Linked DNA regions of Homo sapiens. The protein of the gene in region 2 purifies or fractionates together with the protein of the main gene of each other region. This does not show direct contact. Each region holds a gene or a part of one and is shown on either strand. Other genes may lie near its edges.

What was found. The genes of interacting proteins can lie anywhere in the genome.
Region 1: the proteins of SLC43A3 (region 2) and SEMA4D purify together in Homo sapiens (affinity purification with mass spectrometry; one large-scale study listed by BioGRID and IntAct). This does not show direct contact.

What each region holds. Positions count from the first base shown.
Region 1 is NC_000009.12:89,386,570-89,390,218, reverse strand, and holds part of SEMA4D (semaphorin-4D isoform 1 precursor), read left to right. Parts: intron 1-1,171; coding exon 1,172-1,347; intron 1,348-1,426; coding exon 1,427-1,583; intron 1,584-2,610; coding exon 2,611-2,833; intron 2,834-3,649. UniProt on the Homo sapiens protein: Cell surface receptor for PLXNB1 and PLXNB2 that plays an important role in cell-cell signaling. Regulates GABAergic synapse development. Promotes the development of inhibitory synapses in a PLXNB1-dependent manner.
Region 2 is NC_000011.10:57,420,473-57,424,121, reverse strand, and holds part of SLC43A3 (equilibrative nucleobase transporter 1), read left to right. Parts: intron 1-93; coding exon 94-140; intron 141-2,748; coding exon 2,749-2,825; intron 2,826-3,057; coding exon 3,058-3,150; intron 3,151-3,649. UniProt on the Homo sapiens protein: Sodium-independent purine-selective nucleobase transporter which mediates the equilibrative transport of extracellular purine nucleobases such as adenine, guanine and hypoxanthine.

The DNA of each region.
Region 1 (3,649 bases), on a different chromosome or scaffold from region 2:
CTGTCAGAGCAGCACTGGCCAGGGGACTCGAGCCCTCCCCTGCCATCGGGAAGCCAAGGATCAGACTTGCCTTGACCTTGACTTATTACCCAGCACTGAGGGTTTGCAGCAGGATCAGTGAGCAGATTCAGCGATGCACAGAGCAGCCACCTCCACCCCCGACAAGTTTCTACAAGTCTTAGGCACACTGCTGTCATCCCCTCTGATCCCTTTTTTTTCCCCATACTTGTTTGAACTCCTGGACTAGGGTGGTTTGAGCTTAGGCCCCACAGCTCCTGCCTACCACGCAGGCACACATGAACCCTTCACCTGCTGCCCGTGACCTGAAAGCCACATGAGACCCCTGACGAAAAATGTGCTAGAAATTATTCTTTGCTAAAACATCAAGGAGGAAAATGAAGTCCTTTTATCAAAAAGAGAATTTGGGCTCCTGTAATCACACAGCAGAGATGAAGGGGGAACATTTTCCCTGTGTCCAAAATAAGTAAGGCTGCTTCTATTTCATATTCTTCTGCACTCAGGTTTTGTGGTTTCAGTATTTCTCTCCAGACCACACACAGTCATGTGTAGTTTATAATTGTGTCTTGGTCATCGGATCCCTGAAAAGCGTTTATAAAGAACTTAGGTTCAAAGCACTTTAGCAGATACTTTGGGTAGAAAGGAAGTGAAGGATCTATTCCTTTAAAGGGAGGAAGGTTCACACATTTGCCCAAGACAGGCTGCAGGGCCGGTGGCTGTCCCCTGGAAGGAGGCTGCCGCCACTTGCCCCACCCAGAGCATGTTCATTGATGGGCCCTATGTCAGGAAAGTCACACAATGCCAGGGGCCTTGGCAGTTGGAAGTGTGTGAGCACGGCAGCACCTCTGCGGTTGCAGGACTGAATGCTGGGCACAGGCAGGCATGGACGATCAAATGAGCTTTCAGTGAGAGGGCTTTTGTCCGTTTTGTTTTGTGTGTTAACCCAGGAGCGTTCTGGGATCCAAGCTGGAACCTGGACGTGGTGCTGCGGGCCACTCACATAATTGCGGCATCTGTCTCCTGTTGCCCGAGCTTTGTTTCAGTCAGGCACAGCCGCGCTGTGCTGGGCCATGGAGGGGTGCACCTCTGACCTTAGTGCTTGCTCACAGGGGATCCACTCTCGGCCCACCACGTCTTCTTGTTGGGGTTTTAGGGGGACCAGGGCGGCCTGAGGACCTTGCAGAAGAAATGGACCTCCTTCCTGAAAGCCCGACTCATCTGCTCCCGGCCAGACAGCGGCTTGGTCTTCAATGTGCTGCGGGATGTCTTCGTGCTCAGGTCCCCGGGCCTGAAGGTGCCTGTGTTCTATGCACTCTTCACCCCACAGCTGTAAGTGCCCTGGGTGGAGTCCCCCTCCTTGCTCCCTTGATGCCGCCAGGTGGTCCCGTCACCTCTTTCCCCTCCCCAGGAACAACGTGGGGCTGTCGGCAGTGTGCGCCTACAACCTGTCCACAGCCGAGGAGGTCTTCTCCCACGGGAAGTACATGCAGAGCACCACAGTGGAGCAGTCCCACACCAAGTGGGTGCGCTATAATGGCCCGGTACCCAAGCCGCGGCCTGGAGCGGTGAGCTGGGGCACTGGGGGCGGGCCGTGCTTTCCCTTCAAGGCCCAGGGCATGGAATCCAGTACAGGCACTGGGGCCTGCTCATGGGCTGGGTACCTGGCCACGCCAAGGCTCTCTGCATTGGGACAGGGACGGCCGATGAGCACAGCTCATCCTTCTTCCCTTTTGCATGTTACGTAACAGCCATTGCTACACTATTGCACAAACAAGAAGGCTGGGGCAGCTGTTTTGCACAATTAACATTGCATAACAATTAGGTCTGTTTCATTTTCAGTTTCTTACAGAGAAACACATGATTCCTTGGCAAAGGCCTCTGCACTGTCCACTAGTCAACAGGAGTCACATTTTTTCCTCCTAAATATAGTGAACTTTATGTAGAAATTGGGAATTTCCAGGCCGATTCCTTCCCTCACATGGGGAAATGGGTGTGACAGGCATGTGCACAGCCCTCTGTGGGGCTGTGACCTACATGGGGTGTCCTGGCCCTCAGAGTTCACTGCAGCACCAGCTCCCTCCCAAGGGCAGCTGTCCCTGACACCATCATGGCTCCTTCTATGCATAGCTTCGTAAAATGTGTTCACTCATGGTCACAGATTTTGGTTTACACACATCAGGGAGCTAGAACAGGAAAAAAGAATCCCTCAGGCTCTTATGCTATTTTAAATTGTCCTGGTTTTAGCCATGTTTAGCATTCTTTTCATGAGAAAGCTGCAAATCAGTGTTCTGTTTTTTAATTTCAAAAGCTCAATAAGTGTTTTTCACTTACAAATAGATAAAAATTCCTTCCCTGAGTATGTATCGTGAATGCAATTCTGTCTTGCAGATGTGTTTTATAACTGTGTCCTCTGCTGGCTGGGGAGAGGCCACCTTTCCTCATAGTAAAGTTATTCACTGCTACCCTCATTTCAAGGCATGCATTGTGTGGTTTCCAGGTTTTGCAGCCCCCCCTGCGTTGGCTGCTTGTGTGGAAGCACCCGTTGCGTGGTGGGACACGAGCACGTTAACAGCGGGGATTTTCTCCCTGCAGTGCATCGACAGCGAGGCACGGGCCGCCAACTACACCAGCTCCTTGAATTTGCCAGACAAGACGCTGCAGTTCGTTAAAGACCACCCTTTGATGGATGACTCGGTAACCCCAATAGACAACAGGCCCAGGTTAATCAAGAAAGATGTGAACTACACCCAGATCGTGGTGGACCGGACCCAGGCCCTGGATGGGACTGTCTATGATGTCATGTTTGTCAGCACAGGTGGGTTCCGAGGGCTTGGCAGGCTTGACAGTGACAGCACATCTGTGTCCTCTGGTAGGAAAACTGGGAAATCCAATTATTCTTTCGTGAGTAGTTCCATTGCCTCCCTCGAGGTGACCTGGGAGGTTTGTGGGAGCGTAAGAAGATTTCTGAGAAGTCACCACACCAGGTGGCTTTCAGATCTGGGACCACCAGGCTACTGGAGGTACTTGTTAAAAATAAAAATGCAAGTCCTGGCCTGTGGCTGGGCTGGGCTGGGGCAGAGGAGTACTGGCCGCCGAGGAGTTGGGGCAGTGCCCACGCAGGGGGCAGGTGTGAGCCACCTGGGAGGAGGCGTCAGCCTGGCGTTTCCTGACTGCTGGCAGAGGACCACGTCCCTGCTTCCTGGCCGAGGAGCCAGGTTTTAGATGTGCCCTGGCATGTGGACTCTGAAATAAGCACTTCTGGAACAGGGACAGGGGCCAGGAGCCACGGTGGCTGGCAGCGCATTGTGGCCTGCCCTTGGAGCCTCCCAGCCAACCTCACATGCCCCCTGTCCTCACCGCCTGCCTAGGGCACTTACCAGTGACACCCCGAGGGCTGGTGGAGCATGGGAGCCCCCTCATGTGGCACTTAGCCTCAAGTGTAATGTCGACTGTTGGTGAGGATTCTTGGGGTCAACCATGGAACAGTTTATTTTCCTTGGAAAAAAACTGGAATAACCCATAACACTTGGGTTTCCAGTTGTCTGTTTTGCCAAAGCCTTTTCCTTTTTTTGTTTCTAATGCGAAATCATCATTGTTTTCTAAGTATCTGTGGAGGGAATGACTTGAGAGT
Region 2 (3,649 bases):
CTACACTTGTGGGCTGGCTGAGCAGAATCATGTTTTTTCTCCCAGGTTTCTCCCTCCTTGACAATATTCTGCTTTTCCTGTTATGTGTTTCAGATTTTTCTACACCACCGCCACACTCATCATAGCCTTCACCTCTGCAGGTGAGTGCTGTCAGGTGGGTGGGAGGGATGCAAGCTCAGAGGCACCTGGTGGCTGGGGCAGGTGTGAGCAGAGGGCTATAGGCAAGATATACAGACCACATGGTTATTCAGAGATCTGCAGCTTGAAAGAATCCTGGAAGGATCTTGAGCTATTGCTGGTCTGTGAAAACAGTTTATTGAGAAAATGTGAAAAGCAAGGATGATGGAGAGGGATTACTTCAGAGAGTAGAATTTATTCAAAACTTTACATCTGGCCAGGTGCAGTGGCTCACTCCTGTAATCCCAGCACTTTGGGAGGCTGAGGCGGGTGGATCATCTGAGGTCAGGAGTTCAAGACCAGCCTGGCCAACATGGTGAAATCCCTTCTCTACTAAAAAAAATACAAAAATTAGCTGGATGGTGGTGCGCGCCTGTAATCCCAGCCACTCAGGAGGCTGAGGCAGGAGAATTGCCTGAACCCAGGAGGCAGAGGTTGCAGTGAGCCAAGATCACACCATTGCACTCCAGCCTGGGTGACAAAGTGAGACTCTACCAAAAAACAAACAAAAAACCCTAAAAAACAAAACAACAACAAAAAACCTTTACATCCTTCTCCTATGTGTTAAAATGTTCTCTTTCTCTTTTTAATGAAATGATTATATGAATGACCATTTTGCAAATATCCTTACTTAGCAGGGTAAAAGTTGACAACCCTATTGTACTCAAAATCTTTGTTTTAAAATTTCACCAGTCTGTTAAGTCTGGAACTCCAATCTGGTTTATTTTCCACCACCCTTCCACCCATTACACAGAGGAGAAACTGAAGCCACAGCAGGACCCCTTGCAAAGACATGTCCATGGCCACAGAGAAAGCAAGTGGGAGGTGGGCCTGATGTGCAGGCCTCCTGATCCCTCACTCTTCTTTCTGTCATTGCCTTGGTTATGGTGGCCACGAGATGCCTCCCAATATTCCTTCCTAGTGTTAGACCCGTGGCTCAATTTTTGGTTTAGGAAAGAAAGTACATTACTCTTGTGTGTGTAAGCTATGCTAAAGCTGACAGCATCATGAGATTGTCTGCACTCATGCTGGGCAAACACAGAGGCTGAGTGTCTTTGTTCACACAGATCTCATGAGATGGCCCAGCACCTCAAACCAATTATTTCAAACCACTCTCCTTATCAAACCAGCATCATCTACTCTAAAAGCCTGTAAATGATTTTTAAGCAACTGAATGTGGAGGTGGTGGCTGGGTAATGTTTGACTCGTGCCTGCAAATCGTCTGAGCAACAATCCTCCTCTTCCTCCATAATATAGGGCTTTTCAGTTTTGAAAAAAGCATTGAGCCCATAAGGACTCTATTGTGAAAGGAGTCTCCAACCTTTAGTAGTAGGAGAGATGTACATTTTATAAAGACAGAAATTGAATGGTAAACTGTGTGAATACTCTAAAATTAGCTCTTGGCAGTGCTTCTTAAGGTATAGCACGGTAGTTAAGAGGATGTTAGGGGCACACGCATACTACGTGAACTACACTAACAAACATCAAATCACCTGGTAGAACAGCTATTCCCTTTTTATTTCTCTTTCAGTCCTTCTGATTTCATGAAAGAATGTCTTCATGTGGGGCCAGTGTGATTTTAACACTGATGGGAAGAGCAGGTCTTAGGCTTTGAACATTCTAAGGTCAAATGCATCCAGCTACAATTGAATAACATTGTTTTCCTTTCATTGTATTTATTTTGACAGTTACTTTCTATTCATGACAAGTAATGCCAGTGTTTTCATCTACAGTAGTGATATAAAGTGTCCTTTAAAAATAGATACTTTTTGGATAAAAGTGAGTCAACTTAAAACATTTTAGCAAATAATAGGACAGGCATAGGTTGTGGCCAGAATAATGGTGGGCAGAAGTCTGGTTTGGGGAGGAAGAATTTGTCAAGGGTTCCCCTAGCCCAGCTCTTGAGCTTTTTTGCTGTGGTCTCACACTTACCAGACCTGTTATAACCATTTGTTTGCATGTCAGTCTATTTAAGGGCAAGGACTATCTGATTCATCTTGCATTTCCAGTGCCAAGCACAATGCCTGGCACCAAAGAAGTGCTCAGAGTTTAGTGAACAAAGAAAAGACCATGGTCCTTTTCTCACTCAGTTCTCATAGCACCTGAGACAGGAAGAGCAGGAACTGTTGTTCCCATTAAACAGATGATTGAAGCTCAAGGCCAATACCATGAATTAGGGAATGGGCTAGAGGGTTGAGCCAGGGACCTGAGTCCAGGGTCTTCTTTTCCAGGAGTGTCAAGGATGAAAGGGAGAGGCAGCTTGTGGTTTACTGAGGGAAGAGAGAGGTGGCTTCACTTAGAGCTCTGCCTCTGTCTGTAGACTTCCTGGCCTGCCACAGACTGAGGACCAACTTTGGTTGGGAAGAAGGTGGCTCAGAAGACTTCCACAGAGATATCTGGGGAAGCCTTGGCCGGTATCCTAAAAACCCTTGAAGGACGCTGGAACGCTGGCTAGAATTGGGGCCTGGATACCAGGATTGTTGGGAATTTGGAGCAGGTGGGAGCAGAGTTTGGGGCTCCATGTTTGGGTTGCACTATGACACCACCCTACCTCTGACTTTGATGGTCCAGGCTCAGCCGTGCTGCTCTTCCTGGCCATGCCAATGCTCACCATTGGGGGAATCCTGTTTCTCATCACCAACCTGCAGGTGGGAGCCTTCCCTAATCCCAGGCACTCGGCAGGGTGGCGGGAAGGTGGAGGGAAGGAGAGACCCTTTTCTATAATTGGCTGCCTCAGATGGGGTTGGCCCAAGCTGAGGTGGGAGCTCTAGCGGTGGAGGGTGAGTTTGGGTATAAGGAGGGTCTGCCACATGCTGGGTGCTCAGGAAGTATCTGTTTCATGAATAAATAAGTGATCCAGGCTAGTCCTATCATCCCCAGATTGGGAACCTATTTGGCCAACACCGTTCGACCATCATCACTCTGTACAATGGAGCATTTGACTCTTCCTCGGCAGTCTTCCTTATTATTAAGGTAAATATAGCAACAGCCTACATTCACTGGGCACTTGTATATGCCAGACACTTGTCTTGTGAACCTGCATTATTTGTCTCCATCAACTCGGTGAGGTAGGTACTGTGTTACCCCCATTTTACAGATGAAGCATTTGAGTCTCTGAGGTTAAAAAGCTTGTTGAAGGTTCTGCAGCTAGTAGCCATGATACTGGAACTTGAACCCAGGCTTGTCGGTTCTAGAGCCTGAGCTTGTAACCGCTAAGCCCCTTCTTCAGACTTGCCCAAGCTTTTGTGGCAGTGGTCATAATGTGCTTGGGCCAGTGTTGGGTAGAGGCTGGGGGACCTTTAGAGTGGGGCGTTTGCTGCTGTGAGCTTCTAGTTTGGACAAGAAGGTGGCAAGTGGCTAGTGGGTACAGCAGGGGCAGACACAGAGGCTTGTCCAGCTGTCCCAGTGGCTGATGTTGGGGTATCAGGGGATGAACTGTTGCCAAGGCTATTAGAGGTCAATCAACAACCAT